Regions from separate parts of the Homo sapiens genome. Here all the other regions are linked to region 2. The links come from fine-mapping of genetic effects on gene expression. Tissue or cell type: whole blood. Region 2 holds a variant in brackets; each other region holds the start of a gene. Each region is shown on its reference strand, or each on the opposite one. Region 1 holds the start of SEMG1 (semenogelin 1). Region 2 has its middle 2.1 kb from the start of ZNF316. Region 3 holds the start of PI3 (peptidase inhibitor 3).

Region 1 (2,666 bases), not on the chromosome of region 2:
TTTGGAACAGAACAGTTTCTGGTATTTTCTTAAGGGAAGTGTGAGGAAGATTACAGTGGTTAGCAGACACAGTAATCAATTTTAGTTCAGAACAATATCACCTTACTCTGTTGGGGTTTCTGCAATAAGGAACTACTTACTGCCTTTGAGGCAAACAGATAAATTTGGTAAGATCTCAGAGTGGCTCATAGAGAAACCATGCAGCTCACATGATTTATGTTTGATAGCATAGCACTTTTTTTCTGTGGTTGGCCTTTCTCTTTTCCCCTTCCATAGAGCATTGCCTACAGGAAGGTTAAGATTCTAAGACAGAATAATTGAAAATAAGTTTTCAAGCTATCCTTTCCCCAGCACTACCCTCCAAGGTGTTCTGAATGTACACAGGGACACTGTTGGGATGCTTTCTTCTTCTCCTGTGGTCTGCTCATAACGAAGTCTTTATGACTCAAAGTAAAGAAAGTTTCTTCAGACTTTTCAGGATGTCATCACAATTGGAAAAATCTATGCTTCTACCAAAGGTGGGAATTTTAGCTTCATGTCCACTCACAATACATTATTCAATTCATTGATGGTGGCAAATATTTCTCACAGCCTGTTTGGGGATTCAGCTGTTTACTACTGAAGTAGAAACTTCTCTTAATTAAAAAGAAAATTCTGCTGTTTAGGTAGATTTCATGAAAAGAACCCAATCTAGAAACCAGCATTTTTACTTTTTTTCCAACAGTTGTTCCTATCACCATGAAAGCATATTAAAATTCTTTCATCCTTTGAAAACACATCTGGAACTTACCTCACCCTCCAGATACAGCCTCAGCTCTCACTCCACCATGAATTCAGACTTCCTGAGAAGGTTGCAGCTGGTCTCCATCCTTCAACTGACAACCCAATGCAATTGTATTCATCTCTCATTAAAGTTACTAGCAACAACTAAGAAAAACTTTGGATACATGTCAGTCTTTATTGTGTTGAACTTGACAGACATATTTGACATTGGAGTGCCCCATTTACTTGTTTAAAATTTCTTTCTTTGGATTCCATAACGTTTCATTATCTTCTATATCATTGGACTTCTATGATTGCTCATTCTTAGGTAAAATAGAACGTGTCTCAAGATCATTTTTAAAACAAAAGGAAGTATGGAGTTCTATCTAAAATAGAGTATTTAAATTATTGCATCATGAAGGGAAACTCACATTTAGAATATAAAGGCATTCTCAGAAACCAATTGCTTTTGTAGCCTGAAGCCAGTCTCTTTCCTACTTTTGTCTATAATTCTGTAAAATTAAAGTGATCTGGCATGATGATCTAAAAGGACTGATAAAAATTTGCTGGGGCTGCCAGAAGAAAGAAAATGCCTTTGACATTATGTTGCTGGGGACATTGACTTTGTCCCACACTCAGCAGGGGTGAGGAAGTTGGCATTTACTGATAAGCTAAGAAAAGTCAGTGCCTTTTGTAATTTAAGCTCCACCCATGGCACACTCACTCAAGGAAGATATAAATGACAAGGTCGGCTCAGCTCTCAGACAAGGTTTTCCAAGCAAGATGAAGCCCAACATCATCTTTGTACTTTCCCTGCTCCTCATCTTGGAGAAGCAAGCAGCTGTGATGGGACAAAAAGGTGAGTGGAGAGGGTAAGCCTTGGGGAAAGCTGCTCAGACAGCTAATAATCTAAGATTATTTGGGGTGCAAACAGTAACCTGTTTAGGCACAGATTCTTCTCTTTGAAGAGAATTGATTTTCTCCACCCAAAGCTTCAGCTTTTCTAGAAATATCAATAATTTGTTGGGGGAAAAGTGGGGGGTAAGAGTTGTAAGGGAGCTTTGGAGATAATGAATGCATACCTTCTTATTATCAATTACCAGGTGGATCAAAAGGCCGATTACCAAGTGAATTTTCCCAATTTCCACACGGACAAAAGGGCCAGCACTATTCTGGACAAAAAGGCAAGCAACAAACTGAATCCAAAGGCAGTTTTTCTATTCAATACACATATCATGTAGATGCCAATGATCATGACCAGTCCCGAAAAAGTCAGCAATATGATTTGAATGCCCTACATAAGACGACAAAATCACAACGACATCTAGGTGGAAGTCAACAACTGCTCCATAATAAACAAGAAGGCAGAGACCATGATAAATCAAAAGGTCATTTTCACAGGGTAGTTATACACCATAAAGGAGGCAAAGCTCATCGTGGGACACAAAATCCTTCTCAAGATCAGGGGAATAGCCCATCTGGAAAGGGAATATCCAGTCAATATTCAAACACAGAAGAAAGGCTGTGGGTTCATGGACTAAGTAAAGAACAAACTTCCGTCTCTGGTGCACAAAAAGGTAGAAAACAAGGCGGATCCCAAAGCAGTTATGTTCTCCAAACTGAAGAGCTAGTAGCTAACAAACAACAACGTGAGACTAAAAATTCTCATCAAAATAAAGGGCATTACCAAAATGTGGTTGAAGTGAGAGAGGAACATTCAAGTAAAGTACAAACCTCACTCTGTCCTGCGCACCAAGACAAACTCCAACATGGATCCAAAGACATTTTTTCTACCCAAGATGAGCTCCTAGTATATAACAAGAATCAACACCAGACAAAAAATCTCAATCAAGATCAACAGCATGGCCGAAAGGCAAATAAAATATCATACCAATCTTCAAGTA
Region 2 (2,666 bases):
CCTTCTTCAAATGAGTCTAGGGAAATCTATCAAGACTGAGTTCAGTAGTGAGTGACAAGAAGGTCCAACTAAACTACAGTTTATGACAACCAATTGTCCCCAGGTCAGAGGCATCCTCAGGTGGCCCAGGCCTGGTCTAGCATCTCCCTAAGGCCAAGGACACATAAGTCCCACCAGCTTCCTTCGTCTCCTCTCCGTCTCCTCAGCCCCTCAGCAGTGCTGTTGGAGCAAGAAGCAAAACTCACTCGTAGGGCCCGGTGAGGTGGCTCACGCCCTTTCCTTTCCTAAAAAGGAAAGGGAAAGGAAGAAAAGGGAAGGAAGAAAGGAAGGAAGGGAAAGAAAGAAGGAAAGAAAGGAAAGGAAAAGGAAAAGGAAAAGGAAAATTATCTGTGGACGAGGGAGAGGAAGAAATTGAGTCTTGGATTAGGTATCAGGTGAGGACAGGCCAAGAGGAGATCTGAGGAGATGCTGGGGTGATTCGGGGTCCCTGCCTGACAGGGTGGAGGGATCTAAGGCCGGGATGGAGCTGCTGACTCTATTATACACACTCCTCTTCTGGGGTCCCTTGCTGTCCACATTACAGGTGGTTTTGGGCAACGGGCAGCACTGGGAAGTGACAGGGTGCAGGAGGGCAGGGTTGGGGTACTCTCTCCTTGCCACACTGTCCCTCTATAATCACAGTGCCCACAGTGTCCCCATCTTTATATCTCCACCTCCCTCCAGGCTTGACAACATCCTGCCCTTTCCTGCTCCTGCAGGGCTAAGGGTGGCAAAGGCCTGGTGCCTTCACATTCCAGCTGCTTCCCTTTACCTGGTGTATTAGTCCATTTTCATGCTGCTGTAAAGAACTGCCCAAGACCGGGAAACTTATAAAAGGAAAGAGGTTTAACTCACAGTGGCTCTTGCCTGTAATCCCAGCACTTTGGGAGGCCGAGGCGGGCGGATCACGAGGTCAGGAGTTCGAGACCAGCCTGACCAACACGGTGAAACCCCATCTCAACTAAAAATACAAAAATTAGCCAGGCGTGGTAGTGCACACCTGTAATCCCAGCTACTTGGGAGGCTGAGGCAGGAGAATCACTTGAACCTGGGAGGTTGACGTTGCAGTGAGCAGAGATTGTGCCACTGCACTCCAGCTTGGGCAACAGAGTGCGAGACTCCATCTCAAGAAAAAAACAAAAACAAAACAAACCACCACCACCACCACCAACCACCACCAACCACCACCACCACCAAAAACTGACTCACAGTTCCGCATGACTGGGGAGGCCTCAGGAAATTTACAATCATGGTGGAAGGGGAAGCAAACACTTCCTTCTTCACATGATGGCAGGAAGGAGAAG[T/A]GTGGAGCAAAGGGGAAAAGCCCCTTACAAAACCATCAGATCTCATGAGAACTCACTAACATGAGAACAGCATGAGGCGAACTGCCCCCATGATTTAATTACCTCCCACCGGGTCCCTTCCACAACATGTGGGGATCATGAGAACTACAATTCAAGACGAGATTTCAGTGGGGACACAGCCAAACCACATCACCTGGTGACACTGCTTTTGGTCAATTGTTAATTGTCCTACAGTCAGAGCCCTTCCTGGGAGTGCCTGGGGGCAATTGCACCTTCCTACTGAACCTGACGGATCAGGTAGGGTGGGGAAGGGTCTAATCTAGGGATTAGGGGTTCTAAAAGATACCCACAGGAGAGTCAGGCAGTGTCATTCAGATGTGGGCCTGGAGGAAAGGGACAGGGAGTGGTGGGCACTGAGGACCATGGCCACGCTCAGTCCCACCCACAGAAGCTGGTTACTTCTCAGGCCCTACTGGCTGGTGCCCTGCAAACCAGGGGCCTTGTGTTGCCAGAACTTCTGATTTTTCAGATTTTATTTATTATTAGAGACAGGGTTTCAATCTGTTGCCCAGGCTGGAGTGGAGTGGTGCTATCATAGCTCACTGCAGCCTCAACCTCCTGGGCTCAAGCAATCCTCCCACCTTGTTTTCCCAAAGTGCTGGGATTACAGGTGTGACCCGCCTCGGCCCCCCAGAGTGCTTAATTTATAGGTGTGAGACCCCGCATTAGAACCTGATTTTTCAATTTTATTTTTTAAACAAGAATGGGACTCCTTATTTTAAAATGTTATTAACTTTAAGACATTTTAAGACACCAAGAGCCAAGCGACATCACTGTGAGGGTCTGATTCAAGGGGTTGGGGCTGCACCCCTCTGTGGGACTAAGGTTTGAGTCCTCCTCTATCTTATTATTATTTTGAGACAGAGTCTCACCTTGTCGCCCAGGCTGGCGTGCAGTGGTGTGATCTCGGCTCACTGCACCCTCTGCCTCCCGGCTTCAAACGATTCTCCTGCCTCAGCCTCCCAAGCAGCTGGGACTACAGGGGTGCGCTACCACGGCCGGCTAATTTTTGTATTTTTAGTAGAGATGGGGTTTCACCCACCATGTTAGCCAAGCTAGTCTCGAACTCCTGACCTCGTGATCCGCCCGCCAAGACCTCCCAAAGTGCTAGGATTACAGACACCGTGCCTGGCCGAGTCCTCCTCTATCTCTTGCCCAGTCAGGCCTGGGGTCCCCACAGAAAAGCACCAAGAACAGTGGTGCAGGCGGGCTGGGAGCTGGGGAAGGGGCCCAGGCCACACCATTCCAGGCGGAAGACAGACC
Region 3 (2,666 bases), not on the chromosome of region 2:
ATGAGCTTTTGTGTAAGGTAGCCAAAGGCTTCCACAGTCTGACATTCGTTTATGTCTCCCTCAGTTTCAGGCTTGGTGGGCATGTGGTCAGAGTCTAAATCGACAAGGGGTGGGGATTTCACCAGCTGAATTAGTGTCCAATAATTAGTTTGTTACCTTCCCTGCCTTAACTCCACCTCAACTCAGTGACTTTCTTAACTCAGATTCTGTCCCTGACAATACCCAACTTCAGGATATTCATTTCTATTACTCAGAACTTTTGGTAACAATGACAGAATAGTAAGTCAGACTAGCTGAAGCAGAGGGCTAATTTATTGCCTCATAACCCAACCATGAGAAGGGTGTGTGAAGAACTGCTCTCAAGGTAAAGGAGGGAAACCTGGCTGTGTCATCTGAATCTTCTCTCACCATCACTTCTCTCCTTGTCTCAGTGTATTAGAGTCGTTTTTCTCAGACAATTGATCTCCACCCCCAGACTTAGATAACCACTTCTGGAATTCCCTGGTTCATATATATCACCTTTTCCAGAAGAAGGAACCCCCGTTTTCCCCTTTCATTACTCATTCAAATAAAATATGTTAATAGACCAGACCAAGTCTCACACACAACACACACACACACACTCACACACACACACACACACACACACCCCTACCTGTGGTCAGGGGTCAGGCTTTCATGATTAGCAGTCCCCATTAGACTCACAAGTTGATGGTTCAAAGAGACAACAATTCTTCACAAGAAACAGGGTGCTGTTCAAAGAAGTGGGGAGGCATGCTGGACACACACACTGTAGATGTCCAATGTATACATGATACATGTTTTCTACTACTTTCTGATTATTTTCTCCCTACCACTGTGATTTCAAGGGCATCATCCCTCTTCAGACCTAGAATTCCACCTTCCAATTACTTTCTTGATGCATCTGAAAGGCCGTCTCTGAAACAGCAAAGTGCAATAATTAGTCATTATGTATTCAAGGCAAATTTGTCTTACAGAGTTTTTTGCAGGACCAGGGAAGAAGGAAGGAAATGCCCAGTTTGATGCTGGGAGTGGTAAAATGATAAAGTAGATCTGGGTGGGGTTTGTAGCACCAGAGCATAATGGAGAAACACCTTGGTTTTGTAATCAAGACTGGATCTACCAGTGACTTGCTGAATAACCTTCGGTGATTCCTTTCTCTTCTTGGGTCTCACTGTATTTCAAAACATGAAGAATTTCATTGTAATGTTACCTAATAAGTGAGCCAGCACTTCTACTCTGTGAGAAAGTAGGAAAACTCTTGGGACAATCAGAGATGATGTGATGTAATGTCCATTAGTTCTTCCTGTGAATAATCCTGAGGGAAAGCCCCCAGGTCCCTCCCAGAATGGGGTGGATATTTCCCAATACAGCTAAGGAATTATCCCTTGTAAATACCACAGACCCGCCCCTGGAGCCAGGCCAAGCTGGACTGCATAAAGATTGGTATGGCCTTAGCTCTTAGCCAAACACCTTCCTGACACCATGAGGGCCAGCAGCTTCTTGATCGTGGTGGTGTTCCTCATCGCTGGGACGCTGGTTCTAGAGGCAGCTGTCACGGGAGGTGAGTGAACAGGTGACCTGCTGGGCTGGGTTGGACTAAGGGGAGACCCTCTGGGACACCCTGGGCCAGGACAGGGAGCACTTCTGAAGCAGTAGGCAGCACTGGAGCCCAGATTTCAGCTTTCTGTTCTTTGCCATCATATTCAGAAAAAATAGGACTTTGGCTGGTGGACTCCACGTGCTTTCCACCTCAGTGACTGAGATATCAGGACTGTTTGTGGAAGTAATGTTGGTATGTGGCCTTGGCCTCAGATGTCAATACCTGTGCAGAATGTGCAATAAAATAATGAACTCCAGGATTTTAAACCTTGGGTGTGGACACAGTCCCCCGTTTCTCTGCCCCATAAAAGCACTGGAGTAATCAGTACTCTAAAAGGAGGTTAAGAAACAACAAGCCTTCAGGAATCATGTTGTTTGAGGACCCCCATTTTATAAGGAGGGAACCAAAAATGTAGAAATGAGTGAGCAATTGCCAAGGTAATTCCCAGAGCCAGGATGGGGCTCAAGTCTCCTAGTATGTGGCTCAGGGTTCTTTCCTACTCCAATGCACTTCCTAACAAATGACAATGTGTCCTCTTCACTGCTGGGTGTCACCCCAGTCTGACCACTGCTCCTGAGAGACTTGGAGTGGAGGAAGGGGGAAGAAACAAATACTCAAGGGAACTCTGGTCCAGTAGACCACCCCAAAAAAGGAAGAGCCTTCCAAGAGTGTAGCTCCCAGAGGTGTACCTTCCCTACTCAGGCCATGGTTTGAGGATGCTGCAGTAAGCAGTGGATGGACCCAGACCCAGAGGAAAGACATGGCAGCTGAAGCAGAGGCTTACTGGGTATAAATGTGGGCTCGTTTCTTCTTTTAACAGTTCCTGTTAAAGGTCAAGACACTGTCAAAGGCCGTGTTCCATTCAATGGACAAGATCCCGTTAAAGGACAAGTTTCAGTTAAAGGTCAAGATAAAGTCAAAGCGCAAGAGCCAGTCAAAGGTCCAGTCTCCACTAAGCCTGGCTCCTGCCCCATTATCTTGATCCGGTGCGCCATGTTGAATCCCCCTAACCGCTGCTTGAAAGATACTGACTGCCCAGGAA

The links.
Region 1: it holds the start of SEMG1, and the variant in region 2 is fine-mapped to the expression of SEMG1 in whole blood (TOPMed, PIP above 0.99).
Region 3: it holds the start of PI3, and the variant in region 2 is fine-mapped to the expression of PI3 in whole blood (TOPMed, PIP above 0.99).

What each region holds. Positions count from the first base shown.
Region 1 is chr20:45,205,509-45,208,174 of GRCh38, forward strand. It overlaps SEMG1 (semenogelin 1), which reads left to right and starts at 1,525. Exons shown (of 3, transcript NM_003007.5): 1 at 1,525-1,621; 2 at 1,866-2,666. The coding sequence starts at 1,546.
Region 2 is chr7:6,633,884-6,636,549 of GRCh38, forward strand. No RefSeq gene overlaps it. Among named protein-coding and RNA genes, the nearest start is that of ZNF316, 2.1 kb to the right of the region's middle. The variant T/A (reference allele first, on the strand shown) is at 1,344.
Region 3 is chr20:45,173,417-45,176,082 of GRCh38, forward strand. PI3 (peptidase inhibitor 3) reads left to right here and starts at 1,486. Exons shown (of 3, transcript NM_002638.4): 1 at 1,486-1,585; 2 at 2,445-2,666. The coding sequence starts at 1,507. RefSeq lists an enhancer at 1,076-2,275.